2 separate regions of the Homo sapiens genome follow, and region 2 is linked to region 1. The links come from fine-mapping of genetic effects on gene expression. A gene starts in region 1. The other region holds a variant in brackets. All regions are shown on one strand. Distances are from middle to middle.

Region 1 (15,523 bases):
GAAAAGATAACTACTGGGTACCGGGCTTAATACCTGGGTGATGAAATGATCTATACAGCAAATCCCCATGACACGTGTTTACCTATATAACAAATCTTCACATGTACCCCCAAACCTAAGATAAAAGTTAAAAAAATGCGGAACATATGAACCATGGAATACTATTTAACCATAAAAAAGAATGAGATCATGTCTTTTGTGGGAACATGGATGGAGCTGGAGACTATTATCCTTAGCAAACTAATGCAGGAACAGAAAACCGAATACCACACGTTCTCACTTATAAGTGGGAGCTAAATGATGAGAACTCACAACACGAAAAAGGGATCAACAGACACTAGGATCTACTCGAGGGCATTGGGTGGAAGGAGGGAGAGGAGCAGAAAAGATAGCTATTGGGTACTGAGCTTAATACCTTGGTGTTCAAATAATCTGTACAATAAACCCCCATGACATGAATTTACCTATGTAACAAATATGTACCCCCCAAACCTGTACCCCCTGAACCTAAAATAAAAGTTTAAAAAAAAAAAAGAAGAAGAAGAGATTCGTTCATGTGCAGTGGCTTATGCCTGTAATCCCAGCATTTTGGGAGGCTCAGGCAGGTGGAGTACTTGAGGCCAGGAGTTCAAGACCAGCAGAGTCAACGAGGTGAAACCCCATCTCTACTAAAAATTTTTAAAAAATTAGCCAGGCGTGGTGGTGCACGCCTGTAATCCCCGCCCCAGCTACTTGGGAGGCTGAGTCATGAGAATCGCTGGAACCCAGGAGGCAGAAGTTGCAGTGAGCCAAGATTGTGCCACTGCATTCCAGCTGGGGTGACAGAGTGAGACTATATCTAAAAAAAAATAGATGTTAAAATTTATTTTTATTTTAAGTTATGGGGTACATGTGCAGGATGTGCAGGTTTGTTACACAGGTAAATATGTGCCATGGTGGTTTGCTGTACCTCTCAACCCATCATCTAGGCATTAAGCCGAGCATGCATTACTTAGTTTTCCTAATGCTCTCCCTCCCCTCACCCCACCCCCCGACAGGCCCCAGTGTGTGTTCTTCCCCTCCCTGTATTCATGTGTTCTCATTGTTCAGTTCCCACTTATAAGTGAGAACATGTGGTGTTGGTTTAAAGAATAGATTTTTAACATTCACATTACACACACAAATAAGTTGGTAAGGTGATGGATATTTTAATCAGCTTGATTTAGTCTTTCTACAAGGTATACATTGATCAAAACATCACATCGTGCCCCATAAATATATGTAATTGTTAAAAATAAATAAATATGTAAAAATGAATAGGCAAACCACCAACCAGATAAGTATAATACACATAACTACCAAAAGAATCGTTCAGCATATGAAAAAATGTATACAAATTAATAATGAAAAAGATAAATACTTAATAAAAATAGGCAAAACTTAAGCAGACACTGCCAAAAAAAAGAGTAGCTAAAAAGCACTTAAAAGATGCTCAATTTAATAAGTCATTATGGAAATGCAAATTAAAACACAATGAGATACTATTTAACACTCATTACAATGACTAAAATTCAAAGACTGGCAATACCATGTTTGTTGGGAACATGTGGAGCAACTGGAACTCTCATACATTGCTGGTGGGAATGTGAAATGGTACAAACATTTTAGAAAATAGCTTGGTACTTTCTTATAGAATTAAGTATACATCTTTCCTTGATCCTGCAATTTCATTCCAGGTTGTCTATACAAAGAAATGTAAACATATATCTACAAAAAGACTTGAATAAGAACGTTCACAGCAGCTTTATTTATAATAGCCAAAAAATTCATAACACATCACATATATATCTGTCAGTATGAAAATAGTTACACCATAGTACACTCACACAATTAAATAGTACTCAGCTTTATGAAAGGAACAAACTACTGATACATGTGATGCAATAACATAGGTAAATCTTCAAAATATTATGTTGAGTGCAAGAGCTAGAAACAAAAAATACACATATTATGATTCTAAAAAGATACAGTTAAAGGTCAGGCAAAGCTAATATTTGTTGATTGAAATAGAAACAATGGTTGCCTCTGGGGGCAGGAAGAATGAGGAAGCACAGGGGAACTTTTAGAGATGATGAAAATATTTTGTCTTGAATGAAGTTTGAGTCACATAGGTGTATTCATTTAACAAAACTCATTAAGCTGTACATTTATGATCTGTGCATATCATTCTCTTAATTATACCTTAATTAAAAATAATAAAAAATTATTAAAAGATGCAGCATTTACAATTAGTATTTTATTCTGTGGAACACGTAACTTTTAAAAATATGTGCAATTTAATTAACAAAATAAATGCTCCGAGTTCTTCGGAATAAAAGGTAAATCTGACATACAGCCTGTCCTCCAAGAACATGGAGTCTATAAGACCACTGGAAACTTCCAGGACGAATTAGAGAGCCCCCAGAGAGGGAAGATTAGAACAAAGGCAAAGGGGAAGGAATGGGAAGGCGTGTAGCTGGGATTTTAAGGGATGGCATGTGAAAGGAAACCACAGGAAGACAGTGTACCTCAAACTTTAAATATGTGTTGACATTGATTTATCTAATTATAAAACTTAATTTCATGTTTGCAAAATTCAAAAGTAGTGAAAGCAATAAATTTAGTGACTCAAATCTGGTAAATGGAGACTTTTCAGAGGTTTAACTTAAACATTAACCAGTTTATTCATTCATTAAGCCATTCAACAAAGATTTATTAAGCTAGGGGGATATTCTAAGGTCTGCCAAAATGAAAGACGACTGCTCTTTTGGAGCTAGTTTTAAATTTAATTCTTCTAATTTTGTTGAGACAGAAATTGTACGGAAGAGAAAAAGAAATTAATTAAAAATATAACATTCTTTGAGTCCCTATCAAGTGCAGTGTCCAAAGAAATGTAGATCTTTTCTGCCCTGCTTTCAGCCTTCTGCGAAAGGTAGGATTCATTAAAAGTGGGAACAGTCATGGACCGCAGAGTTGGCAAAGCTCTCATAGGGCTGTGGTGGAAGCCTGTGAGTAAGGCAGTTCCAGAGACACTGCACTTAGTGTTTGTTTCATAGGCACTGTCTCACTTAATCCTCACAAGGACTCTCTTAACTGTTTTAAAATCAGGACTGAGAAAGTTCAGCAAATCAGACAGACAGGGGCAAAGTTGCCTCTCAAAGCCACATATATCTGATGGAAGTAGAGGCTGTCCATCTCTACACCAGACTGCTTCTCGACATCTCCGGGGTGCCCTGACGGAAGCATCCTTCACTGTGATCCACCTCAGCAATGTCCTGCAGAGCCCTCTGGAGAGCCAGCTTGAGGATCGGCTGCTGCAGCCGCCACTGCTTCCTAAAAGAGCCCACGAAGAAGTAAATGATGGGGTTGGCACTGCTGTTAAGAGATGACAGGACAACTGAAACTGGATGAATATGACAAAATAAGACATCAGAATCCTTCCAGATCCATAATATTAGGAACCACTGAATGCCAAAGGGCAGGCCGCAGAGGAGGAACACCAGCACTGTGAGCAGGATGGTCAGGTACAGCCTGGTCAGTGGCAGACCCCTGGAGCCACAGAGGATCCTGACCAGCAGGGCCAGACTGGACCCACAGAGAACCATGAATAAAAAAATCAGCCACGCTGCAGTGATGAAATCAAATGTCTGACACCAACCAGAGTCACCATCACTAAATAAGAAGCCACAGAACTTCCCTTCCAAGATGCTCAGCAGTAGGGACAGGGCCCAGAGCAGGACACACACGACCGCTGACAGGTGTCTGGGGCGGCGGCAGCGATACCAGATGGGCCACAGGACGGACAGGCAGCGCTCGGTGCTGACGGTGCTCAGCATGCTCAGGCCTGCAAGGTAGGCACAGGTCATCACAGTGGTGAAGAAGCTAGGGAAATTGATGGAGATGGAACAGAAGAAGTTACTGAGGTACACCAGGCAATTTATAATCTGGAAGCAGAGGAAGAGGAAGTCGGCCCCGGCCAGGCTGAGGACGTAGACAGAGAAGGCGTTCCTGCGCATGCGGAAGCCCAGGAGCCAGAGCACAAACCCGTTTCCTACCAGCCCGACCAGGGCAATGAAAAGGATCAGGAAGACCGGGATCAGGGTCTCCTTGCCACAAAGCAGAAGAAGGGCTTGGTCATTTCCATTCACTGTTGTACTTTCTGTTCCCCAGGCCGGGGTGGTTGGATCCATGCTCAGAAAACCTCCACTGGTGCCCCTGGAAACAAAAACAAGACTTGAGCACCTGCTGCATGTTCACTGATTTTCATGACCAGCCTGTTATGTGGTAATTACCGCCCCTGTTTTACAGGAGAGGAAATCAGAGGCTTGAAGAGATTAAGTCATTTATTAAGGGCCAGGGAGTCCTAGCACCTGGATTCAAACTCATTTCTTGCTGACTCTAAATCCTGGGCTCTTTCTATTACAAGGTAGATCCTCTGCTGGTATGGGAATATTCTAAGGCCCAAACACCCCCACTCACTGTCACTGTGTCATGTCTCCTGGAGGCAGGAAGAGAAAAGTCTAGGCAGAATATGTGGGGCAGCAAGAGACAGTACTCTGAGTTCAGGATTCTTTTTATCCTGGCATACAGATTTCCTCTCAGGGGCCAGAAGAAATGACCCAGGCCATGACCCATGGCCACCCTTAATGACTGAGAGGAGTCCATCAACAGTCAGAATGGAGATTGTGATTTAGGGTCATAACGGAGAGGTGACTTCTTGCTAGGACAGGTCTGAGGACAGCCAGGCCTGTCAGACTAGAAATTGCTCAGTGGGTCAGCTTTATGAAAACAGAAAGAGTTTTTCTCTTATCCATTTCTGTGTCCTCAGTGCCTAGCTCAATGTGAGGGCATAGTGGAGGGTCAAGAAGTTTGTACCACATATAAATGAATGAATGAATGCATGCATGCATGCATGGGGAGCCAAGAGTAGTTGAAAATTTGGGCTAAGTGGAACACCAACATTTTAAAATGAAATTAGTCACTAAAAAACACACATGTAAAGAAATGAAGAAAACATCATTCTTCATGTTTCCTTCTGGGAAAGCTCTGGTGTATTTGAAGGGATTGCTTCTGCCTACACAGATAGTGAATAATGGCCACTGTCATATCTTCAATCCAGGAAGGGCTAGTATATGGCTTTTGCTCAGCACCCAAAAGAGTTTAAACTTCCAGTTTATGGAGAGGATTCAGGGTTTATCTGAATTTCTCTGCATCTTGGAGGAAAAGGGGGCAATTTGGGAAAAGGAGAGAGAGGCAGCAATTGAGAGTGTCTAGTGTCTAGAGGTAACTAGAGGGTGTTGTGGTATGAATACATCTAAGGTGGACCCATTACTTCCCCCAGATGATTTTGAGCTTTCTTTGCAAATTAAAGCATTTGTGAACAGGATTATTTGGGGAAAGGAGTGGGAAATTAGAAAAAAGAACCATGTCTACACTGTGCAGGGCTTTGAGGGGAAAAGGCAGATGCTTATGCAAATTACACTTGGGAAGGAGCCCTTACTCATAATGGGGTGAATAATAGCAGCTGGCTGAATGCTCTTCAGGTATAGCCTCTTTAAATCTTCTTCAGAGCCTGGTGAGGTCAGTACTATTATTAGTCCCATTTTACAGAGAAGGAGATTAAAGCACAAATGTATTGAGTAATATGCTTCAGGTCTCACAAACAAGTGGTAGAGCCTGCATTTGAACCCACAGGTCTGTGTCAGAGGGCTTGTTCTTAACCAGCCTTGCAGCCCCATTGCAAGGGTTCAATACCAACTACACATGAAGAAAGGAGAAAAGCAACAAGTAATGCTCATATCAAATCCAAAATGGAATGTCGAAATTGCAGTTTTTTAAGCCTAGATTAAGCAACTTTAAGAAACAGTAAGGAAGAGAGATTAATCAAATAAGGAGAAGAGATATGAATAGAAGCCAACTGAGAATAAGCAACTGAATGCAAGAGCTCTTTCTTGCTTCAGAAAAACAGCCGTCAATCACTCCACACTGCAGAAAACTCTCATGGGTTGGAGGCCTCCAAGGGGAAAGTGAATGTGTCCTCCATGGGGGTGCAGAATTGGCATCAAGGACTGAATGCATCCATCACATGCTGTCTTAGTTCCTGTAGCCCTGGTTGGCCTTGTGAGGATATGGAAGAAAACCACTTCTGTTGTCCTCCCTCAGGGCAGGTTGGCCTTTTTATTCGTGGCACTGAACACAGTTTGCACCTGTATTTTTTTTTTTTTTTGAGATGGAGTCTCGCTCTGTCACCCAGGCTGGAGTGCAGTGGCTCGATCTCGGCTCACTGCAAGCTCCGCCTCCTGGGCTCACGCCATTCTCCTGCCTCAGCCTCCCGAGTAGCTGGGACTACAGGTGCCCACCACCACGACTGGCTAATTTTTTGTATTTTTTTTTTCAGTAGAGACGGGGTTTCACTGTGTTAGCCAGGATGGTCTCGAACTTCTGACCTTGTGATCTGCCCGCCTCGGCCTCCCAAAGTGCCAGGATTACAGGCGTGAGCCACCGTGCCCGGCCCTGCACCTGTATTTTTAAGTGTATGTCTGTTTTTTCTTTTACTTCCCTCATTAAGCTCAACATTTTTGTTGTGGTTGTTCACTATTATATCCCCAGCCTCCAACACATATCCCTTGGAGGCCATCTATTGTAATACGCTCATTTAACAAAGAAAGACAGGCTTAACGTGTACAAAAGAGTTTCCTGAATCACATGGTGAAAAGCAGGTCCAATACCAGCTCCAGTCTCCTGGGGCCCTGTCCTAGGTTTATTTCTGTTCCATGTCTACATCATTCACTATTTGTGAGGCAGTGTTGAGAAAAATCTCCAGGTGAGCACAGATGCTAAAAGAGAATCGGGCTATAGAGACTGCTTGTTGCCCCAAAAGCCATTCTCCTTTTCTCACACATAATAATTCTGAGTCTTAGATCAGAAAAAGGCCCATTTCTCAGCTTCCCTTTATGCTAATGGCACCATGTAACCATATGTGATGGTCAAGGGGAGGTGAGAGAAAGTGATATAACCAGCTACTCCTGTACTCTTTCTTTTTTTCTCTTCTCTCTGGCTGGAATGCTGATGTGTTTGGGAGCCATGTAGGACCATGAGGGTAAGGGTACCGCTTTAGGGATGGGGAAATAGAAATTGGAAGGAGCCTTGATGTTTGATGTCTTAGAGTTATCAGCCCAAGTCTAGTAAACATTCTTTTTGATTATCACTATAATAGGTTTCTTTTTAGAGAAGCCAAAATCATAAACTTACATTACACATACCTGTGTACTTATAGCTGGGAGTACCTATGTACTCCCAATCCCTTTTTTTCCCAACCACATTCCATTCTCAAGGCATTTATGATGATAGTGAGAGACTAGTCCAAAGAAGTGACACTAGATGGGAAGGTCAAACAATTAAAAAAAAGGGAGGTGATAGAATGAGAAATTGATTCAATCACATTAATAGAGAAAGTCTCAGGAAAGACAAACTGAGAAGAGGCTATGGGAAGAAATGGACTTTCCTATTTGCTATTAGGATCTCATGTCCATCCTTCTCTACCTGCCTTTGCATCCTGGGAGGAGACATGTCTGTGCCTCGTCAATGGGCTGTCTTTCACTCAGGCTCCAAAGGGTACACATTGACAGGAGATTGGAGGGTGACTTTTTTTTTCAGCCAAAGGGACACATTGACAGTAGATTGGGGGATGATTTTTTAAAAATTTCCTGGCTCTCTCCCTGCGCCCTGAAGGGCTGTGAGTTGGCAGTGGCAGTGTTTTTCTACCTAAGGACATAGCCCTGCCTGGTGGCCCTTTCCTGTAGCCACAGCTATAGTTACAGTTACAGTTACCGCTACAGCACATTCTGAGTTCTCAGAACTTCTCTTTCTCCTTATCACTTCAGACCTAGCAACGGTAACAGCCCTCCACTATCACTTGCCTTTGAGGGCTTCATCATTCCTTAATCCCTGTTCACGCCGTTGTAAACAGTCTCTTCACTAAACTCCTCTAAACTACCCCTTTAGAGTGTGTGATGTGTGTTTTCTGCTGGGACAATGACAGATATGAAGGAAAAACCTTTTGAATAACAAGAAAATCAGTGCAACCTGAGGTTTTAAATAACAATTTAGCTTAGGGAAGTAATGACTTCATTCTAGCCTGCCCCTAAATTAAAATCAGCAAAATCTTTCTCTCCATAGTTTCAGATTTGAATGGTCGAAGAGAAGGGGAGAATATTGGTAGATAGAAGAGAAGTGGGACGAACCTGCTTGACCCCATTCGGATCTCCCAGCATCTAAGCTGCCAGCATCCAAAGCTTCCTCAAAGGAGCTTCCTGTCTTCTTTTCCTAATGAATTCATCAGGATGTGGACTAAGGTAAAAACCAAAACTGCCTTTGAAAGAAGATGGTTCTTGAACAAACTCTTACCTTAACACCCTTCTTTCTACTGGAGTTGGTGAGTTGAGAAGTGCTTTCCTGGGACTGGCAAACAGCTGAGGATGGGGAGATGCCTGCAGGATCTGGAGTGAAACCTGATGACTGAGTGAAGCTTATCAAGATGCTCAACAACCCTGTGATTTCCTGTACAGAGGGTGCTGGAAAATAAGAGTATGACACAGGAAACCACATGAGATGTTTCTCAGCATTTGCCCTGACTCCAATCACTTATCTTGGTTTCTCCCCTACCCTCTCCGGCCCCACTCCCTGCAAGGAATCACCGTCCTGAAGTCTTTCATTGCCCACAATGAGCATCCAGGAAGCAGACCAATCAAGCGACGTGAGCTTTCATAGCTAAAGAATAGTCTGCCCTCTTCTGCTTGGCATTCAAGGCCCTGGCTTACTTGACCTTTCAAAATCAGGTTTATTTCAAATGACACTAAGGTGTATAAAATGAAATGCAAAGTCTCTCGAAGTCTCATTCCCCAAAAGCAACCACTGCATACAGTTTCCATTCTTTTTTTTAAAAAAGCTTTGCGTAATAAAACAACATTTCTATTTTTGATTTATCGATGTTAACAACTAGATATATTGAGTCTCCTTATAAAATATAGGGGACTTAGCACATCACATGCACCATCTGTCACGTTTCTCCCTCTACATCATGATATTTATTAGCTAGATTATTTTTAGATCATCTAGAGCCAACCAATATTTTCAGCCTTATCTCCTATGACTTCCTTTCATGTGCCTATGCTGCAGCCAAATTGAGTTATAAGTAACAATTATGAAGCATTTAAGACAATCAGAAGAAATTATTCACTCATTTATTCATTCATTCAACACTGTTTATTGTTTGCCTATGATATGTCAGGTACCGTTCCAGGCAATGAAGACACAATGATGAACACCATACAAGATCATGCCCCTTTGCATTCCAGAGCAGCTGGGTGACCTCAGACAGGGAACATGTGTTGATTGAGGCGAGTTCTGAGACTCAGCATTTTCTTGTATTATACTTTGGTGCAGTGGGTAAACCATGCATTTGTCCCCAGAAATCTGCTTTCCTCATGAGCAGCAGCAGGACCTTAGAAAGCTTTAACTTCTGTTACTGTCTAACCTACTGTGCTCTATTATTTGATTTTGATTCTGTTTCCCTCCAACAAATGAAACACTTATTATTGTTTTAAATAGTCAGTGTTTATTCAGATTTATCCACATAATCACCAATGCTTTTGCTCATCCTCCCATTTTACATCTCATATCTTCCATTTCTCAAAACACATTCTTCAGGAGTTCCTTCTGTGAGAGTCTCTGCATGGTAAATGCCTCCTTTTATCTATCTGAAAATGTCATTGTTTCACCCTCGTCTTCTAAAGATGGTTTTTCCAGGCATGGCATTGTAGGGTGATAGTTTCTTTCTTCCAGCACATTGAAGATCCATGTTCTGACTGCCAGGGTTACTGTTGCGGCCATCAGTCAGGTTGCCATTTGCTTGTGGTGATCTGCCTTTTTTTCCTCTAAGAGCTTTTATTTTTCTCTGCTATGATACATTCTCACCAAATTGTATCTGGTGACTCTTTTTCAAATCATGTTTGGGATTTGTGGAGTTTCCTAGATTTTAAAATTATCATCATTTAACATTTTTAAACAATTTAATGCTATAATCTCTTTAAATATTAACATAACGGTGAAGAACACAAGACCAGGCTACTTGGCATTTCTCCTATGGGACCTTAGCCAGATTTTGTAACTCTGTTATGTTTGTTTCCTCATCAGTAAAATGGGGATAACATTATTAATCTATAGGTTTGCTGTGAAGATTAATAATTTAATGTATATAAATGATTTACAATAGGAGCACATAGTAAGTACTATAAAATTATTAGCTCTCATTATCACTTTTAGTATTATCTCTTTCTGGAAGTCTAATTCAACATATGTTAGCCCTCTTCTTCTATCATCCTTATTTCTTTAACCTTTTCCTTATGTCTCGTCTCTGTCTCTGAGGCTGCTTTCTGGGTAATTTCTTCAGATGTATCTTCCAGTTAACTAGATTCTTTCCATTGTGTCTAATCATCTGTTTAATCTATCCACTGAAGTTTAAATCCAATTTTTATATTACTAATTTCTAGAAGTTCTATTTTATTTTTTTAAAATTATACTTTAAGTTATGCGATACATGGGCAGAACGTGCAGGTTTGTTACCTACGTATACACATGCCGTGGTGGTTTGCTGCATCCATCAACCCGTCATCTACATTAGGTATTTCTCCTAGTGCTATCCCTCTCCTAGCTCCCCACCCCCTGAGAGGCCCCAGTGTGTGATGTTCCCCTCCCTGTATCCATGTGTTCTCATTGTTCAACTCCCACATATGAGTGAGAACATGCAGTGTTTGGTTTTCTGTTCCTGTGTTAGTTTGCTGAGAATGATGGTTTCCAGCTTCATCCACGTCCCTGCAAAGAACATAAACTCATCCTTTTCTTACGGCTGCATAGAATTCCATGGTGTATATGTACCACATTTTCTTTATCCAGTCTATCATTGATGGGCATTTGGGTTGGTTCCAGGTCTTTGCTATTGTTAATAGTGCTGCAATAAACGTATGTGTGCATGTGTCTTTATAGTAGAATGATTTATAATCTCTTGGGTATATACCCAGTAGTGGGATTGCTGAGACAAATGGTATTTCTGGTTCTAGATCCTTGAGGAATCGCCACACTGTCTTCCACAATGGTTGAACTAATTTGCACTCCCACCAACCGTGTAAAAGCGTTCCTATTTCTCCACATCCTCTCCAGCATCTGTTGTTTCCTGACTTTTTAATGATTTCCATTCTAACTGGTGTAAGATGGTATCTCATTGTGGTTTTAATTTGCATTCCTCTAATGACCAGTGATGATGAGCATTTTTTCATGTTGGTTGGCCATATAAATATCTTCTTTTGAGAAGTCTCTGTTCATATTCTTCACCCACTTTTTGATGGAGTTGTTTATTTTTTCTTACAAATTTGTTTAAGTTTCTTGTAAATTCTGGATATTAGCCCTTTGTCAGATGGATAGATTGCAAAAATTTTCTCTCATTCTGTAGGTTGCCTGTTCACTCTGATGATAGTTTCTTTTGCTGTGCAGAAGCTCTTTAGTTTAATTAGATCCCATTTGTCAATTTTGGCTTTTGTTGCCATTGCTTTTGGTGTTTTATTCATGAGGTCTTTGCCCATGCCTATGTCCTGAATGGTACTGTCTAGGTTTTCTTCTAGGGTTTTATGGTTTTAGGTCTTATGTTTAAGTCTTTAATCCATTTTGAGTTAATTTTTGTATAAGGTGTAAGGAAGGGGTCCAGTTTCAGTTTTCTGCATATGGCTAACCAGTTTTCCCAACACCATTTATTAAATAAGGAATCCTTTCCCCATTGCTTGTTTTTGTCAGGTTTGTCAAAGATCAGATGGTTGTACATGTGTGGCATCATTTCTGAGGCCTCTGTTCTGTTCCACTGGTCGATATATATGTTTTAGTACCAGCACCATGTTGTTTTGGTTACTGTAGCCTTGTAGTATAGTTTGAAGTCAGGTAGTGTGTTGCCTCCAGCTTTATTCTTTTTGCTTAGGATTGTCCTGGCTATACAGGATCTCTTTTGTTTCCATATGAAATTTAAAGTAGTTTTTTCTACTTCTGTGAAGAAAGTCAATGGTAGCCTGACGTGGATAGCATTAAAACTATAAATTACTTTGGGCAGTATGGCCATTTTCACGACATTGATTCTTCCTATCCATGAGCATGGAATTTTTTTCCATTTGTTTGTATCCTCTCTTATTTCCTTGAGCAGTGGTTTGTAGTTCTCCTTGAAGAGGTCCTTCACATCCTTTGTAAATTGTATTCCTAGGTATTTTATTCTCTTTGTAGCAATTGTAAATGAGAGTTCACTCATGATTTGGCTCTCTGTTTGTCTATTATTGGTGTATGGGAATGCTTGTGATTTTTGCACATTGATTTTGTATCCTGAGACTTTGCTGAAGTTGCTTATCAGCTTAAGGAGATTTGGGACTGAGACAATGGAGTTTTCTAAATATACAATCATGTCATCTGCAAACAGGGACAATTTGACGTCCTCTTTTCCTAATTGAATACCCTTTATTTCTTTTTCTTGTCTGATTTCTCTGTGCAGAACTTCCAATACTATGTTGAATAGGAGTGGTGAGAGAGGGCATCCTTGTCTTGTGGCAATTTTCAAAGGGAATTCTTCCAGCTTTTGCCAATTCAGTGTGATATTTGCTGTGGGTTTATAAAAAATAGCTCTTATTATTTTGAGATATGTTCCATCAGTACCCAGTTTATTGAGAGTTTTTAGCATGAAGGGGTGTTGAATTTTATCGACAGCCTTTTCTGCATCTATTGAGATAATCATGTGGTTTTTGTCATTGGTTCTGCTTATGTGATGGATTACATTTATTGATTTGCGTATTTTGAGCCAGACTTGCATCCCAGGGATGAAGCCGACTTGATCATGGTGGATAAACTTTTGGATGTGCTGCTGGATTCGGTTTGACAGTACTTTATTGAGGATTTTTGCATCAATGTTCATCAGGGATATTGGCCTGAAATTTTCTTTTTTTGTTTTGTCTCTGCCAGGTTTTGGTATCAGGATGAGGCTGGCCTCATAAAATGAGTTAGGGAGGAGTCCCTCCTTTTCTATCATTTGGAATAGTTTCAGGAGGAATGGTATTAGCTCCTCTTTGTACCTCTGGTAGAATTTGGCTGTGAATCCGTCTGGTCCTGGGCTTTTTTTGATTGGTAGGCTATTAATTACTGCCTCAGTTTCAGAAGTTGTTATTGGTTTATTCAGGGATTCGACTTCTTCCTGGTTTAGTCTTGGGAGAGTGTATGTGTCCAGGAATTTATGCATTTCTTCTAGATTTTCTGGTTTATTTGCATAGAGGCATTTATAGAATTATCTGATGGTAGTTTGTATTTCTGTGGGCTCAGTGGTGATATCCCTTTTATCATTTTTTATTGTGTCTATTTGATTCTTCTCTTTTTTCTTCTTTATTAGTCTTGCTAGCAGTCTATGTATTTTGTTAATCTTTTCCAAAAACCAGCTGCTGGATTTATTGATTTTTTGAAGGGTTTTTCATTTCCCTATCTCCTTCAGTTTTGCTCTGATCTTAGTTATTTCTTGCCTTCTGCTAGCTTTTCAATTTGTTTGCTCTTGCTTTTCTAGTTCTTTTCATTGTGATGTTAGAGTGTCAATTTTAGATCTTTCCTGCTTTCTTCTGTGGGCATTTAGCGCTATAAATTTCCCTCTAAACACTGCTTTAGCTGTGTCCCAGAGATTCTGGTATGTTGTGTCTTTGTTCTTATTGGTTTCAAAGAACTCATTTATTTCTGCCTTAATTTCTTTATTTACCCAGTAGTCATTAAAAAGCAAGTTGTTCAGTTTCCATGTAGTTGTGTGGTTTTGAGTGAGTTTTTTAATCATGAGTTCTAATTTGATTGCACTGTGGTCTGAGAGACTGTTATTATTTCCATTCTTTTGCTTTTGCTGAAGAGTGTTTTACTTTTAATTATGTGGTCAATTTTAGAATAAGCGCAATGTGGTGCTGAGAAGAATGTATATTCTGTTGACGTGGGGTGGAGAGTTCTGTAGATTTCTATTAGGTCTGCTTGGTCCAGAGCTGAGCTCAAGTCCTGAATATCCTTGTTAATTTTCTGTCTCATTGATCTGTCTATTATTGACAGTGGGGTGTTAAGCTCTCCCACTATTATTGTGTGGGAGTCTAAGTCTCTTTGTAGGTCTCTAAGGACTTGCTTTATGAATCTGTGTGCTCCTGTATTGGGTGCATATATATTTAGGATAGTTAGCTCTTCTTATTGAATTGATCCCTTTAGCATTACATAATGGCCTTCTTTGTCTCTTTTGATCTTTGTTGGTTTAAAGTCTGTTTTATCAGAGACTAGGATTGCAACCCCTGTTTTTGTTTTTGTTTTTTTTTGCTTTCCATTTGCTTGGTAAATATTCTATTCCTCCATCCCTTTATTTTGAGCCTATGTGTGTCTTTACACATGAGATGGGTCTCCTGAATACAGCACACCAATGGGTCTTGACTCTTTATCCAATTTGGCAGTCTATATGTTTTAATTGGGACATTTAGCCCATTTACATTTAAGGTTAATCTATTTGATATTTTGTTTTTCTACTTTCATAGTCATTTTTTCATTTCTTGATGCTGACTTGTGTTGTCAATTCTTTCTTTTATGTCTTTAATCCTATTAAGCATGGCAATATTATAATTATCTGATAATTCTAGTGCTAAAGTCTATGTGTGTGTGACTTTACTGTCTGTAATTTCTTCTGGCACTTTCATGTGATTTGTTTGTGATTTTTGACTGTGAGTTGCCACTTGCCTTGGGAGCTTATTTGTGGAAATTCTTTAAGGCCTGAATTGTAGTTGAGTTCTTTTAGAGAGGTCTTCTGTTTTCTTTTTCTAATTGACTGGAGGAACTTCCCAATGTGCTTTCATGTATCAGGTTGTCCTCAGAAACCTCATTTGTCATTTGAAATTTTAGGAAGACCACAGGTTGTATGAATTTGGATCACAATGTGATACTGATTTATGGTTATAAATTCTCAAGAAGAGCTTTTTGTTTTGGTTTTGTTTTGTCTTTTGATGTTGTTGTTGTTGTTTTTGTTTTTGTTTTCCCCAGAGCCAAGTGTGCATCAGGCAGTTTCTTGGCAGTTGTATTTCTCATGAATGAGAATACACTAAAGGTTCGGTCTTTTGAAGTCCTGCATTTTCATGACATTTTCCTGTTAGACTTTCCACCATGAGTTGTTCTAAACTCTTTCATTCCTTTTAAGCTTGTAGCCATAATACGAAATGAGAATCTCCTTCTGAGAAGAAAGGATAACCATTTAGGAAATGAATTGATCACGTCTGTGCTTCAGAAAAGTCTTATCAGGCTGCTGAATGTACAAGATATAGAATATAGATGAAAACATAAATCACTGGTTATACTTCCACATGGAAACAACTGCATAAATACTTTAGTATATGCATACAAAATACACAATTGATATTGTTTTATAATATGT
Region 2 (15,523 bases), 120 kb before region 1:
AAATGGAAAACAAAAATGAAAGCACAATGTAAGTTATTAGAACACCCATGTTTAATTAGGTACAGAAAATTTCATTCATCAGAATTCTATTTGTGGACAGCTCTATCTGTGTTGAGAAGAATGATTGATGAGTGCCCAAAACCTGAAATTGACCACTGATGTGCCTTTAAAATAAGGACTCAGTGTGGCTTTGCCGAACCCCTAGAAGCATTTTGTACACAGTGTTTTGGGTAGGGTGTGGGTCTGAGCTGAATTGCTCAGCAATAGAACAGAGGAAAGAGTAAGTGAGGGTGAGCCTGAGTGCCACTGCAGCAGGTAATTAAAGTGTGGGAATATCTGTGGGGCACTACTGAGTATTCTGCTGAGTATACACAATATAAACCTATTTCATTCTTTCTTTCAGGAGATCTTTGGTTCGTTTCTTTGTTGATGCAAACATTTGTATGTGAGGAGTCCATGAGGCGAAATAGGAGATATGTAGGGCTTGGAGTATAAAGAGAGATATTCATGTAGATTTCAACTGGAGAATGAGGACTGGGTCTAATCTGGGAGAATAAGAGCAGCTGATGGAGAGTTTATTAGGTATTGTCTGTTTTAATTATCTGAAGAGCCTAGGAGTTAAGAATGAGTATTATTCCCATATGTCAGATAATGCATTGGAACACAAAAAGAGTGAATTATTCATTCTGGGACTTATATAGTATGAATTTGAGCCCAGCAGGGCTGACTCATGATCCAGTCTTTGAGCAGCCCTTTACACCCAGCACGACTCTGTGTCGATTATACATGTTAGAGCGGGTAAAGGAGAGGAGGGATTCTCAAGATTAAATCCAAGTTGGCGGCAAAATTGTGGGTTGAAAAAAAAAAAAACTAACCTAAACCAACTTCAGATAGAGAAAGAGAAGCAGGTCAAATAGGGAACAAAATAGAGAAGAGTGAAAGCCATTTAGTAACAAATTCAGGAGTTCCTTTTTGCCTATCAGAGGCCACCTTTGCTCTGGAATCCCGAGAATGCACAGGGACAGGAGGCCTCCAGGTGGAAAGAAGACTCACCCTCCTCTGGGATTACAGAGGAGCATCAGGAGTGAGTGCATCCATCATGAGCTCTCTTAGAGAGACAAGCTGCCACAGCCTTGCTTGGCCCAAAAAGGAAATGGGAGGAAAAGGAGAACCTCTGTTATCCACAGGCAGGGCACTAAACACATTGTCCCTCTATATTTAGGGTAATGGTGTGTTTGTCTTCCTCATGAAACCTGAAGCTTCATAACGGCTAGTCATGCCTGTCTTTTCCACTGTGGTATCACCAACATTTAGCATGTGTTCTTTAAAGATCATCTATGGTATTATCTTAATATAACATAAGATGAAGCCGAGGCCTAGAGAATTAAAGTGTTTTCATGAGTTCACAACACGAAGAGCAGGCCCAATGCCAGCCCCTGGTCCCTGGAGCCCTGCATGAGACTTCTGTATGGTTCTCTGCCGCATGATTCATTATTTCAGAGGAGTTCCTGAAAAATCTTGATGTGAGTACAGAATCAGAGACAGAGGCAGAAGAGACTGCTAGGTTGCCCCAGTGTTCATTTTCCTGTTTGGTCACATAAAAATTCTGAGAGTTTAAAAGCGGCACAAGGACCTACATTCCAGTTTTCCTTGATGCTGGGTGCCATTTTATGACCAGGTGCTGTTCAGTGAAAGATGCACAAAAGTGATGTAAGCAAGTCCTGGCTCACAGGACCAATAGCAGGAGCAACGCATCTCCTTTCCTTATTTTTTTTCCATCATGCTGAAATGCTGGTGTGGCTGGGAACCATATAGGATCACAGGTATGAGGGCAACTCTCTAGGGACTCGAGAGTAGCAGTTTTTGGAATTCTGATGTACGATGCCTTGGAGCTTCCCGCACTGATCTCAAAGAGTGTCATTTCTGGATATTCACAGGGGCTTTCGCATATGGCAGATGTGTGTGCTGCTACCCCAGCACACACCAAAATCTGCAGATGCTCAATTTCCTTATATAAAATGATGTGATAGTTGTACAAAACCTATGCACTTTCTCCCAGATACATTAAATCACTTCTAAGTTACTTAGAATAACTGACAAAATGCAAATGCCATGTAAGTTCTTGTTTTACTGTGTTATTTCAGAAGTAATGACAAGGAAAAACAAGTTTGTACCTGTTCAGTACATGCACACCTCCGCCATACCCTTATTTTTGGAACAGTTTCCACCTGTGGGTTGTTGAATCTGCAGATTCAGGACCTAGTGACCCAGAGGCACCACTGTACTTTCTTATTTAAGATATTTCTACTTTGTGTCTTTATGAGAGGGGTCAAACTTGTATTCTAAACAAAAGAAATATGTTCTCTTTTTAAAATTACATTTTATTTTCTATGCATTTTGGATGAATGCAAACATTTCTGCATAGAAGTGACAGTAGAGAAAGACATGCCGAACATTAAAGTAGTCTGAAAGAGCTGAAATGAGACAGGAATCAATCACCTGTAGACAGAGACTGTCCCAGGAATTAGGAGGATATAAGAAGGAGAGAGGGATAGTCTCATTTGCTATGATGATTTGCTTTCCATTCTTCTCTATCCTGTTTGACACCCCAAGAGAGTGGCTTCTATGCACCACATCAGTGGGATTCTTTTTAATTCCAGTTTCTGGTGGAATTGAGACACTGGGAGACACCTGGATGAGACTGGAAGACAGCAGGAGAGCCACTTGGGATTTCCACCTCCTGGCTCTCTGCCTGTGTATTAGTTCATTCTTGAATTGCTACAAAGAAATACCTGAGACTGGGAAATTTATGAAGAAAACAGGTTTAATTGGCTTATGGCTCTGCGGGCTATGCAAGAAGCATAGCAGCTTCTGCTTCTAAGAAGGCCTCAGGAAGCTTCCAATCATGGTGAAAGGCAAAGGGGGAGCAAGTCATCTCACATGGTGAGAGCAGGAGCAAGAGAGACAGGGAAGAGGTGCTACACACTTTTAAACAACTAGATTGCATGAGAACTCACTATCACTAAGGCAATACCGAAGGGGGATAGTGTTAAGCCATTTATGAGAAACCATCCCCACTATTTAATCACCTCCCACCAGGCCCTCCCTCCAACACTGGGAATTACAATCAACCTGAGATTTGGTTGGGGACACAGATCCAAAGCATATCAGCCTGTGTGGCTGTGTGTTGGCCGTGCAAGGCTTCTCCACCTGCCTGCTGGAGCTCTACCACCCCTATGGCTACAGCTATGGCTATGGCGACAATGGTAACTGCTCCTTCCTTCTCCCTTTCAGCCTAGGGGAGGACTTAGTCCTCCCCTATGTATTGTTGCTTAGGGTGCTGACCCATGCATTGTCTCTTTCCCTTAACCTTGCACATCTTTGTAAATACTTCCCTCACGAAACACTCCTCAGTCATTTCAGTTTGGACCACCTATTTCTTCCTTGAACCTTTCCAGACAGGCAAGGAATAATAATTTAGAAAAGTAAGTAAAACAACAAAACCTGCTTCTACAGCAGTTCAACTCTGTGAAGCAATGCTTGCATGTCCTCTAGCTCCTTAAATGAATGTGAGAGGCAGCATTTTCTCTAAGAGGACAGGTTCAGTGATTGGAATAAGGGAGGTGATATGGACAGATAAATCAAATGGGGGGACTCCAGTTGAAACTCACACAGTCTGGGTTGGCAGCACTCAGTTTCCAGAAGGAAACTTCATGTCCCCTGTCTTTTCCTGAAACAAGCTCATGATCCCCTGCCTGTAGCACCTAGGTGGAAACAGAAACGATCTTATAGCAAAAACCATGACTGACTATGGAAGAAGACAAATCTTGGTACTTACCCTTATCTTTTTCTCCTTTGTCCAGTGGTGAAGACGTCCCTTGTGCTAAAGGTGGAGGGCCTTTCTGGGATTCAGTGACTTCAGAGAACCCTTCTGTGTTGCTTAATTCAGGAGATGCATACAGGAGCTGGAGTCAAAGCTGGTGAGCAATCCAGGCTTATGAAGATGCTGGACAGACTTGTTATTTCCTGTATGAGGACTATGGACAAATCAGTGGCCAGAGGTATTGGAGACACAAACCCTACCTGAGATGATTCTTGGCCTCTGTCCCATATCCAATAGAGATAAGCCTCTCCCATCACATTCCATCTTGTTCAACTTGCTTGATAAAAACAGTGGCGCAGTTTGAGAGAATGGACTCCCATTTTAAAAGAAGTTCTATTGTGTATAAAATGCTATGCAAATAGCATTGCATGCTACATTAAAATCTTTCATAAAAGGATGAGTCAGTTGATGTGGCAGACTTCACTGTTGTCTTGTTTTAAGATATTGGCACAGCCTGTCTTACCTTCAGCAGCCACTTCAGCAGCCATCAATATCAAGCAAGACCCTCCAGCAGCAAAACGTTTGGCTTGATAAAGTTTCTGATGCTGGTTACCATTTCTTAGTGAAAAAGTATTTTTTTAAGTAATGCATGCACATTGCTTTAGACATAATGCCATTGAGACTCAATAGAGTACAGTATAGTGTAAGCATAAATTTTACATGTACCGGGACACCAAAAATTCATGTGATTCACTTTATTGTAATATTTGCTTTATTGCAGTAGTGGAAGTGGACTTCTAATATCTTCAATGTATGCCTATTATGATAAAGGTTGTATATCAAAGTAGTGTGTAAAACAGGCACAATTGAATGAATGGGATTGGGACAACTGAGTTTCTGTGTGAAATAAGTAAAGGTGGAAACATACTTTACATATGATTTGAGGATACATGCAAATACACTACTTAAAATTTTATAATGAAAATACAATTACCTGGAGAAGCCATAGCCAAATAGTTTTTAAATCAAAGTGGAAAAAGACTTTCAATTATAGGATACAATTCAGAAGATATTAAAGAAAATATTTATAAAGACAAAAAGGCTAGCTGTGATGGCCCATTCCTGTAATCCCAGCACTTTGGGAGGCTGCGTGGGTGGATTGCTTGAGCTTACAAGTTTGAGACCATTCTGGGCAACATAGTGAAAACCCGTTTCTACAAAAAATACAAAAACTAGCCTGGTGTGGTGGTGCATGTCTGTAGTCCCAGCTACCTGGGACGTTGTGGTGGCAGGATGGCTTGAGCCCAGGCCGTGGAGGTTACAGTGAGCTGACATCACACCATTGCACTCCCCTGGCTGATAGAGCCAGACTTTGTCT[C/CA]AAAAAAAAAAAAAGTTATTTTTTTTAGCATAACATTAACCATCATAATCAAGATATAAATAAACTGTGGCCAGGCATGGTGGTTCACCCCTGTAATCCCAGCACTTTGGGAGGCCAAGGCAGGCAGATCACCTGAGGTCAGGAGTATGAGACCAGCCTGGCCACCATGGTGAAACCTGGTCTCTACTAAAAATACAAAAATTAATTCGTTGTGGTGGGACACGCTTGTAATCCCAGCTGCTCGAGAGGCTGAGCAAGAGAATGGATTGAACCTAGTAGACGAAATTTGCAGTGAGCCAAGACTGTGCCTCTGCACTCCAGCTTGGGTGACAGAACGAGACTCCATCTCAAGAAATAAATTAGTAAATTAATAAAATTAAATAAATAAACTGGGAGATGTTTGGTAATGTATGTTATAGCCAAAGTATAAATTTTCTCTATTGATACAAATTTTTCTAAATGATGTTAATAATTCAAAATTGAAAAAGGTAATAAGAAAATAACTTTAAGTCATGATTCACAATTTCTAAAAAATAAAAATGGCTCCTAAACATATGGAAAGAGGAGAAATTCAACTCATAATGAAAGACATGCCAATTGAAATTACAGAGTTATATTTTATTTACCAAAATCTAAAAAACCATTAAGTTTTATAGCATACAGTGTGGGGATGGAGTGGGATCAGGTACCCTCACTCATTTCTGCTGGGGATGCAGATGGATACAACTTCCAGTGAAGGCTGTTTTCAACATATGGAAGCATGTATAAAGCACCATCCTTTTCTCTCTGTAATTCCTCATCTAAGAATTTATCTTAGAGATATATTTGTGCATGTTCAAAAGATCTATGTTCTGAGTTAATAAATGCAGTGTTATTTACAGTCAAAAACTGGTAACAGCCAAAATGGCCATCAATACTGTATAAATTACTGTCTATCTATGCAATAGAATACTCTGTAGCTACCCAGAAAGAGCAACAAACCTGATATAAAAGGCCCTGCAGAATTTGTTAGATTTTTTAAAAAGAATGCAGACCAATGTATATATTGTATGAAAAATATATATATTGTTTTATTATTAAATATTTGTGAATTAATATACACTTATTAGTAAGTATAATAGGATATGTCTTTGTTAACAAGGCAAGGATGCCTGAGGACCTAAAATGGGAATGACAGTTTTCAGTGAGTGTATTTAAAGATTATTTTTGAAAGCTTTGACTTTATTACCATGTCACAAATAAATTTTCAAACAAAAAACATAAATTTAATGATCTAGCTAAGAGAGGGAGTTAGAGATATGAGAAGATACAAGGAAGGGTGAGGAAATGAAGATAATGAGTACAGAAATCTCTTTGGAAGATATTTTTTTCTAAAATAAAGAAGATAAATCAGGCTGTGGATAGAGACGAATGGTTGCTTAGATGGTGTTTTATGCCACAAATAGGATGGGGTGTTTCAGTTGCAATGGAAGGATCCATTAGAGAAGGAAACATTGAAGATGTAGAAGGGAGAGGCAATAATGCTATAAAATGTTTCTGGGGAGGCAAAAGGGGAAACTGCACAAATGGAAAGGGTGGTTTCAAACAGGAATTTGCAGAGCCCATTTCCTGGCATGAGAGAAAATGCAGAGAGGTGTGCTCAGAGGCACATGGGGAGGTAGGTTCCCTCTGGGGAGATTGAGTAATTCTCAGAAGAGCATCACCTGACAGTGATTAAAAAAATAAATAAAGAGTAGGCGGTTTCAGGAGAGAGAAAATGTCGTGAAGATTTTCCTTTGGAGAGTGAGAGGCAATTATGGAAATGTTACGTGAGTGTTCAGGAGATATAAATGGACCTTTCAGGTTCAAGGTTATAAATGTACAGTGAAACCGCTGGGCATGGTTGTGTGTTGTGCTGCAGCCACACTCTGTTCTATGGGAACAGGCATGGAGTTAGTGGAGAGCTGGATTCAAGCAGGGTAAAAGACGAACTGATACTTCAGCAAGGACATATATGCATGACAAATAAACACATAAAAAGATGCTCAACATCACTAATGTTTAGGACAACAAATAAAAGTCACGAGATACCACTCTACCCTCTCAATATGGCTAAAATATAAAATACTGATAGTTTCAAATATTGGCTGAGATTTGAAGGAATTGGAGGTCTCATACACTGCCAATGAGAAAGTAAAATAGTAGAGCTACTCTGGGAAATCTTCTTGCATTTTCATATAATCCAGCAATCCAGCGTATCCTAGAACCTGGAAAATGTATCCTAGAAACTGGGAAACTGTGTTCACTTAAAAATCTGTACAGGAGGGGGGCCAAGATGGCCAAATAAAAACAGTTCTGGTCTGCAGCTCCCAGCGGGACCAACGCAGAAGACTGGTGATTTCTGCATTTCCAACTCAGGTACCCAGTTCATCTCATTGAGACTGGTTAGGCAGTGTGTACAACCCACGGAGAGCAAGGAGAAGCAGGGTGGGGCATCGCTTCATCTGCGAAGTACAAGGAGCCAGGGGACACCTGTCCCCCAATCAAGGGAAGCTGTGAGGAACCCTGCTACCAGCCCAGTACTACGCTTTTGAAATGGTTTTTGCGATCCGCAGATCAGGAGATTCCCTCGTGTGCCTACACCACCAGGGCTCTGGGTTTCAAGCACAATATTGGGCAGCTGTTTGGGCAGAGACCGACCTAGATGCAGGAGTTTTTTTCATACCCCAGTGGTGCCTGGAACTCCAGTGAGACAGATCCGTTCACTCCCCTGGAAAGGGGGCTGAAGCCAGGGAGACAAGTGGTCCCCTGCCTCAATGGGTCCCACTCCCACAGAGCCCAGCAAGCAAAGAACCACTGGCTTGAAATTCTCACTGCCGGCGCAGCAGTCTGAAGTCGACCTGGGGCGATTGAGCTTTGTGGAGAGAGGGGTATCCGCCATTCCTGAGGCTTTAGTAGGCGGTTTTCCCCTGACAGTGCTAAGAAGGCTGGGAGGTTTGGACTGGGCGGAATTCACCACAGCGCGGCTAAGCAGCTATGGCCAGACTACTTCTCTAGATTCCTCCTCACTGGGCAGGACATCTCTGAAGGACAGACAGCAGGCGCAGTCAGGGGTTTACAGATAAAATTCCTATCTCCCTGGGATGGAGCACGTGGGGGAAGGGGAGGCTGTGGGCGCAACCGCAGCAGATTTAATCTTTCCTGCCTGCTGCCTCTGAAGATAGCAGCTGATCCTGACAAGGGGGGTTCTCCCAGCACAGTGCACCAGCTCTGCTAAGGGACAGATTGCCTCCTCAAGTGGGTCCCTGACCCCCGTGCCTCCCAACTGGGAGAGACCTCCTAACAGGGGTGGACAGACACCTCATACAGGAGAGCTCTAGTTGGCATCAGGCCAGTGCCCCTCTGGAATGAAGCTTCCAGAGAAAGGATCAGGCAGCCATCTTTTGCTGTTCTGCAGCCTCCACTGGTGATACCCAGGTGAACAGGGTCTGGATTGGACCTCCAGCAAACTGCAGCCGACCTGCAGAAGAGAGGCCTGACTGTTAGAAGACCAACTAGCAAACAGAAAGCAATAACATCAACATCAACTAAAAAGACCCCCACACAAAAACCCCACCCAAAGGTTATCGGCCTAAAAGATCAAATGTAGATAAATCCAGAAATATGAGGAAAGCAGTGCAAAAATACTGAAAATTCCAAAAACCAGAAAGCCTCTTCTCCTCCAAACTATCGCAACTCCTCTCAAGCAACAGCGCAAAACTGCATGGAGAATGAGACTGATGAATTGACAGAAGTAGGCTTCAAAAGGTGGGTAATAACAAACTCCTCTGAGCTAAAGGAGCATATTCTAACCCAATGCAAGAAAGCTAAGAACCTTGATAAAAGGTTACAGGAACTGCTAACTAGAATAACCAGTACAGAGAGGAACATAAGTGACCTGATGGAGCTGAAAAACACAGCACAAGGACTTTGTGAAGTATACACAAGTATCAATAGCTGAATCAATCAAGCAGAAGAAAGAATATCAGAGGTTGGAGATCAACTTACTGAAATAAGGCATGAAGACTAGATTAGAGAAAAAAGAATGAAAATGAATGAACAAAACCTCCAAGAAATATGGGACTATGTGAATAGACAAACCTACAATTGATTGGTGCAACTGAAGGTGATGGGGAGAATGGAACCAAGTTCAAAAATACACTTCAGGATATTATCCAGGAGAACTTCACCATCCTAGCAAGACAGGCCAGCATTCAAATTTAGGAAACAGAGAGAACAACACTAAGATATTCCTCGGGAAGAGCAACCCCAAGACACATAATTGTTAGATTCTCCAAAGTTGAAATAAAGGAAAAAATGTTAAAGGCAGCAAGAGAGAAAGGTCAGGCTACCTAAAAGGGAAGCCCATCAGAATAACAGCGGATCTCTTTGCAGGAACTCCACAAGGCAGAAGAGAGTGGGGGCCAATATTCAACATTCTTAAAGAAAAGAATTTTCAACCGTGAGTTTCATATCCAGCCAATCTAAGCTCCATAAGGAAAGAAGAAAAAAAATCCTTTCCCGACAGGCAAATTGTAAGGGATTTTGTCATCACCAGGCCTGCCTTACAGGAGCTCCTGAAGGAAGCACTAAATATAGAAAGGAAAAACTGGTACCAGCCACTGCAAAAACACGCTAAAATATAAAGACCAATGACACTATGAAGAAACTGCATTAACTAATGTGCAAAATACCCAGCTAGCATCAGGCAAATTGGATAAACAGTGAAGACCCATAGGTGTGCTATATTCAGGAGACTCATCTCACGTGCAAAGACACACATAGGCTCAAGATAAAGGGATGGAAAAATATTTGCCAAGCAAATGGAAAGCAAAAAAAAGCAGCGGTTGCAATCTTAGTCTCTGATAAAACAGTCTTTAACTAATGAAGATCAAAAAAGACAAAGGAGGGCATTACATAATGGTAAAGGGATCAAGGCAACAAGAAGAACTAACTATCCTAAATATATATGCACCCAATACAGGAGCACCCACATTCATAAAACAAGTTCTTACAGACCTACAAAGAGACTTAGACTCCCACATAATAATAGCAGGAGACTTTTACACCCCACTGTCAATATTAGATCAAAGAGACAGAAAACAAGGATATTCAGGACTTGAACTCAGCTCTGGACCAAGTGAACCTAATAGACATCGACAGAACTCTCCACCCCAAATCAACAGAATATACAGTCTTCTCAGTGCCACATAGCACTTATTCTAAAAATCGACCACATAACTGGAAGTAAAATACTCCTCAGCAAATACAAAAGATTGGAAACAATAACAAACAATCTCTCTGACTGCAGTACAATCAAATTAGAACTCAGGATTAAGAAACTCACTCAAAACCACACAACTACATGGAAATTGAACAACCTGCTCCTGAATGACTACTGGGTAAATAACAAAATTAAGGCAGAAATAAAGACGTTCTTTGAAATCAATGAGAACAAAGAGACAATGTACCAGAATCTATGGGACACAGCTAAAGCAGTGTTAAGAGAGAAATTTATATACCAAATGCCCATATCAGAAAGCTGAAAAGGCTTGAAATCAACACCCTAACATCACAATTTAAAAAACTAGAGAAGCAAGAGCAAGCAACTTCAAAAGCTAGCAGAAGACAAGAAATAACTAAGATCAGAGCAGAACTGAAGGAGCTAGAAACACGAAAAACCCTTCAAAAAAATCAATGAATCCAGAAGCTGGCTTTTTCAAAACATTAACAAGATAGATAGACCACTAGCTAGACTAGTAAAGAAGAAGAGAGAAGAATCAAATAGACACAATAAACAATGATAGAGGGGATATCACCACTGATCCCACAGAAATACAACTACCATCAGAGAATACTATAAACATCTCTAAGCAAATCAACTAGAAAATCTAGAAGAAATGGATAAATTCCTGGACACATACACCCTCCTCCGATGAAACCAGGAAGAAGCCAAATCCCTGAATAGACCAATAACAAGTTCTGAAATTGAAGCAATAATTAATAGCCTATCAATGAAAAAAAGTTCAAGACCAGATGGATTGACAGACAAATTCTACCAGAGGCACAAAGAGGAGCTGTTACCACTCCTTCTGAAAGGATTCCAAACAACAGAAAAAAAAGATCTCCTCCCTAACTCATGAGGCCAGCTTCATCCTGATACCAAAACCTGGCAGAGACACAACAAAAAAAGAAAATTTCAGGCCAATAACCCTGAGGAACATCGATGTAAAAATCCTCAATAAAATAATGGCAAACCGAATCCAGCAGCACATCAAAAAGCTTATCCACCACGATCAAGTCAGCTTCATCCCTGGGATGCAAGGCTGGTTCAACATATGCAAATCAATAAGTGTAATCCATCACATAAACAGAACCAATAACAAACACCATGTGATTATCTCAATAGATGCAGAAAAAGCCTTTGATAAAATTCAACATCCCTTCATGTTAAAAACTCTCAATCAACTAGGTATTGATGGAACATATCTCAAAATAATGAGAGTTAATTATGATAAACCCATAGCCAATATGATACTGACTGGGCAAAAACTGGAAACACTTCCTTTAAAAACTGGAAACAAGACAGAAATGCCCTCTCACCACTCCTATTCAACACAGTATTGAAAGTTCTGGCCAGGGAAATCAGGTAAGAGAGATAAATGAAGGGTATTCAAATAGGAAGACAGGAAGTCAAACTGTCTCTCTTTGCAGATGACATGATTGTATATTTGGAAAACTCCATCATCTCAGCCCCAGAACTCCTTGAGCTGATAAGGAAATTCAGCAAAATCTCAGGATACAAAATCAATGTACAAAAATTACAAGCATTCCTATACACCGATAATAGAAAAGCAAAGCGCCAAATCATGAGTGAACTCCCTCTCACAATTGTTGCAAAGAGAATAAAAGACCTAGGAATACAGCATACAAGGGATGTGAATGACCTCTTCAAGGAAAATTGCAAACCACTATTCAAGGAAATAAAAGAGGATACAAACAAATGGAAAAAAATTCCATTCTCATGGATATGAAGAATCAGTATCATGAAAATGGCCATACTACCCAAAGTAATTTATAGTTTCAGTGCTATTCCCATCAAGCTACCCTTGACTTTCTACACAGAATTAGAAAAAACTACTTTACATTTCATTTAAAACCAAAAAGAGCCCATATTACCAAGACAATCCTAAGGAAAAGGAACAAAGCTGGAGGCATCACGCTACTTGACTTCAAACTATACTACAAGGATACAGTAACCAAAACAGCATGGTACTGCTACCAAAACAGATACATAGACCAGTGAAACAGAACAGAGACCTCAGAAATAACACCACACATCTACAACCATCTGATCTTCAACAAACCTGACAAAAATAAGCAATGGTGAAAGGATTCCCTATTTAATAAGTGGTGCTGGGATAACTGGCTAGCCATGGGCAGAAAACAAAAATTGGACCCCTTCCTTACATTGTGTACAAAAATAAACTCAAGATGGATTAAACACTTAAATGTAAAACCCAAAACCATAAAAAAACCCCAGAAGAAAATCCAGGCAATCGCATTCAGGACATAGGCATAGGCAATGACTTCATGATGAAAACACCAAGAGCAATTGCAAAAAAAGCCAAAATTGACAAATGTGATCTAAGTAACCTAAAGAGCTTCTGCACAGCAAAAGAAACTATCATCAGAGGGAACAGGCAACCTACAGAATGGTAGAAAATTTTTGCAATCTCACCATCTCACAAAGGCCTAATATCCAGTATCTTAAAGGGAGTTAAATAAATTTAAAAGAGGACAAAGTTCCTCTTTGCCCATCAAAAAGTGGGCAAAGAATGTGAACAGACACCTCTTAAAAGAAGACACTTATGTGGCCAACAAACATATGAAAAAAAGCTCATCATCACTGGTCATTAGAGAAATGCAAATAAAAACCACAATGAGATACCATCTCACAACAGTCAGAATGGTAATTATTAAAAAGTTAGGAGGCCGGGCGTGGTGGCTCATGCCTATAATCCTAGCACTTTGGGAGGCCGAGGTGGGCGGATCATGAGGTCAGGAGATCGAGACCATCCTGGCTAACATGGTGAAACCCTGTCTCTACTAAAAGTACAAAAAATTCGCCAAAAAAAAAAAAAAAAAAAGTTAGGAAAGAACAGATGCTGATGAGGCTGTGGAGAAACAGGAAAGCTTTTATACTGTAGGTAGGAGTGTAAATTAGTTCAACCATTGTGCAAGACAGTGAGAAGATTTCTCAAGGAGGTAGAACCAGAAATACCATTTGGCCCAGCAATCCCATTACTGGATATATATCCACAGGATTATAAATCATTCTAGTATAAAGACACATGCACATGTATGTTTATTGCAGCACTATTTACAATAGCAAAGACTTGGAACCAACCCAAATGCCCATCAATGATAGACTGGATGAAGAAAATGTAGCACATATACACTATGGAATACTATGCAGTCATAAGAAAGAATGAGTTCACGTCCTTAGCAGGGACACGGATGAAGCTGGAGGCCATTATTTTCAGCAAATTAACACAGGAACAGAAAACCAAACAACGCACGTTCTCACTCATAATTGGGAGTTGAAAAATGAGAACTGTTGAACACAGGGAGGGGAACATTACAGAACACATCCTGTTGGGTGGTGGGGATCAAGGGGAGGGAGATCATTATGACATATACCTAATGCATGCAGGGCTTAAAACCTAGATGATGGGTTGATAGGTGCAGCAAACCACCATGGCAGATGTATACCTATGTTAGAAACCTGCAGATTATGCACATGTATCCCAGAACTTAAAATAAAATAAAAAAGTCTGTACACATACGTGTATAGCTGCTTTATTTATAAATGCCACGTTAGAAAAAACAGCAATGTCTTTCCACTTGTGAATAGTGAAACAAAGCATAGTACATCTATACAATTGAACACTACTCGGTAGTATAAGAAAGTCAGCAATAAGCTATTGATAGCTGGAAAATGTTGGGTGGATTTTGAGGACATTATGCTGAATAAAAAAAGCCAAAGTCAAAAGATTAGATACTGTATGATTCCATTTATGTAACCCTTTCAAAATGATGAAATTACAGACATGAAGAATAGATCAGTGATTAGAGGGATTTGGGAAGAAGCACACTGTGTGTGTGACAGTAGGAGAAGCCCAAGGGAATTCTTCTGTGGTAAAGAAACACTTCTATATTCAATGTGATTGTGTTTATGAATCTACACCTGTGACAAAATATTATGGAATGAAACATAGAGGAATATCTCACTCCAAAAATGAGTGCATGCAAACACTGGTAAAATTTGGTAAGATTGTGCTGTAGTTATTTGGTGAAATCTGATAAGATTTACAGTGTAGATAATTAGATGGGATCAATGTCGATTTCCTGGTTTTGACAATACATTTATTTAACTTGTAAGTATTGCTGTAGGTCGGGTGATGGGCATACAGGAACTCTCTGTACTGCTTTCACAACTTCTTCGTAGTCTACAATTAATTCACAGTAAAAACTTAAAAACCAACTGAAAGGCCAGTTCATTGTATGGACTTATCTCCATGGATATTGAAGTCACCAAAAATGAGGACATGGGTTATGCTGGAAGGAAGTTTGTAAACCAGGCACATACGCTAGAAGATAATGTAGTAAGCATTAACAGACATCTTCCACAAAATTAAGCACATATTAAATTGTTATCATATTTGTTTCCAATAACTCTTAAAATGAATACATACACTGTTACAGATACAACTTAAGGCTGATTCATGCATCTGTACTCTCAGCAATAATCGTACATGTCTTTGATAATAAGGCAAGGGTGCCTGCATACCTGGAATGGAAATGACAATTTTCTTCAATTTCAGAACGTCTGCGGTTGATATGTATTATTCTCTCACATGTGTACCAAGATGTTAAAACAGCAGTATTAAACCAAATGTCAAGACACTATAGATATTATGTTACAAAGAGGTGCTAGGTGACACAGAATTTGAATAGGAATTTTTGATTACCCATATCAAGCTATGCAGAATTTAGGTCTGAATTTTTATGTGACAATTACAATGTTGATTTAATTCACAGATTAACTGTCTCCCTTACTCCCAATGTGGGCCTTTTGCAGGTAAAAATGCTGCTCCAGAGAAGGGCCTGCATTCCATTGCTTCTCTCTTCTCCCCTAACCCCCACACATTTTTTTTGTTTTTTAATCCATGCCTTCTGGCCCTGGAGGTCTGGATATATCACTGTGAGGAGGGTAAGGAGAGCAGGGCATTGATTTTGGT

Which allele goes with the higher level. Positions count from the first base shown, and alleles are read on the strand shown. Sizes are in standard deviations (SD) of each study's normalised expression.
In carriers of allele C in region 2, the expression in subcutaneous fat of the gene that starts at base 8,523 in region 1 tends to be higher than with CA alone (large effect, 1.0 SD a copy in FUSION).

The links. PIP is the estimated chance that this variant, and not a neighbour inherited with it, causes the effect.
Region 2: its variant is fine-mapped to the expression of MRGPRX2 in subcutaneous fat (FUSION, PIP 0.95).

What each region holds. Positions count from the first base shown.
Region 1 is chr11:19,052,195-19,067,717 of GRCh38, forward strand. MRGPRX2 (MAS related GPR family member X2) reads right to left here and starts at 8,523. Exons shown (of 2, transcript NM_054030.4): 1 at 8,425-8,523; 2 at 2,261-4,233. The coding sequence starts at 4,208. The coding sequence ends at 3,216.
Region 2 is chr11:18,935,442-18,950,964 of GRCh38, forward strand. It overlaps MRGPRX1 (MAS related GPR family member X1), which reads right to left and starts at 3,973. Exons shown (of 2, transcript NM_001393578.1): 1 at 3,839-3,973. RefSeq lists an enhancer at 7,615-8,116. The variant C/CA (reference allele first, on the strand shown) is at 5,202.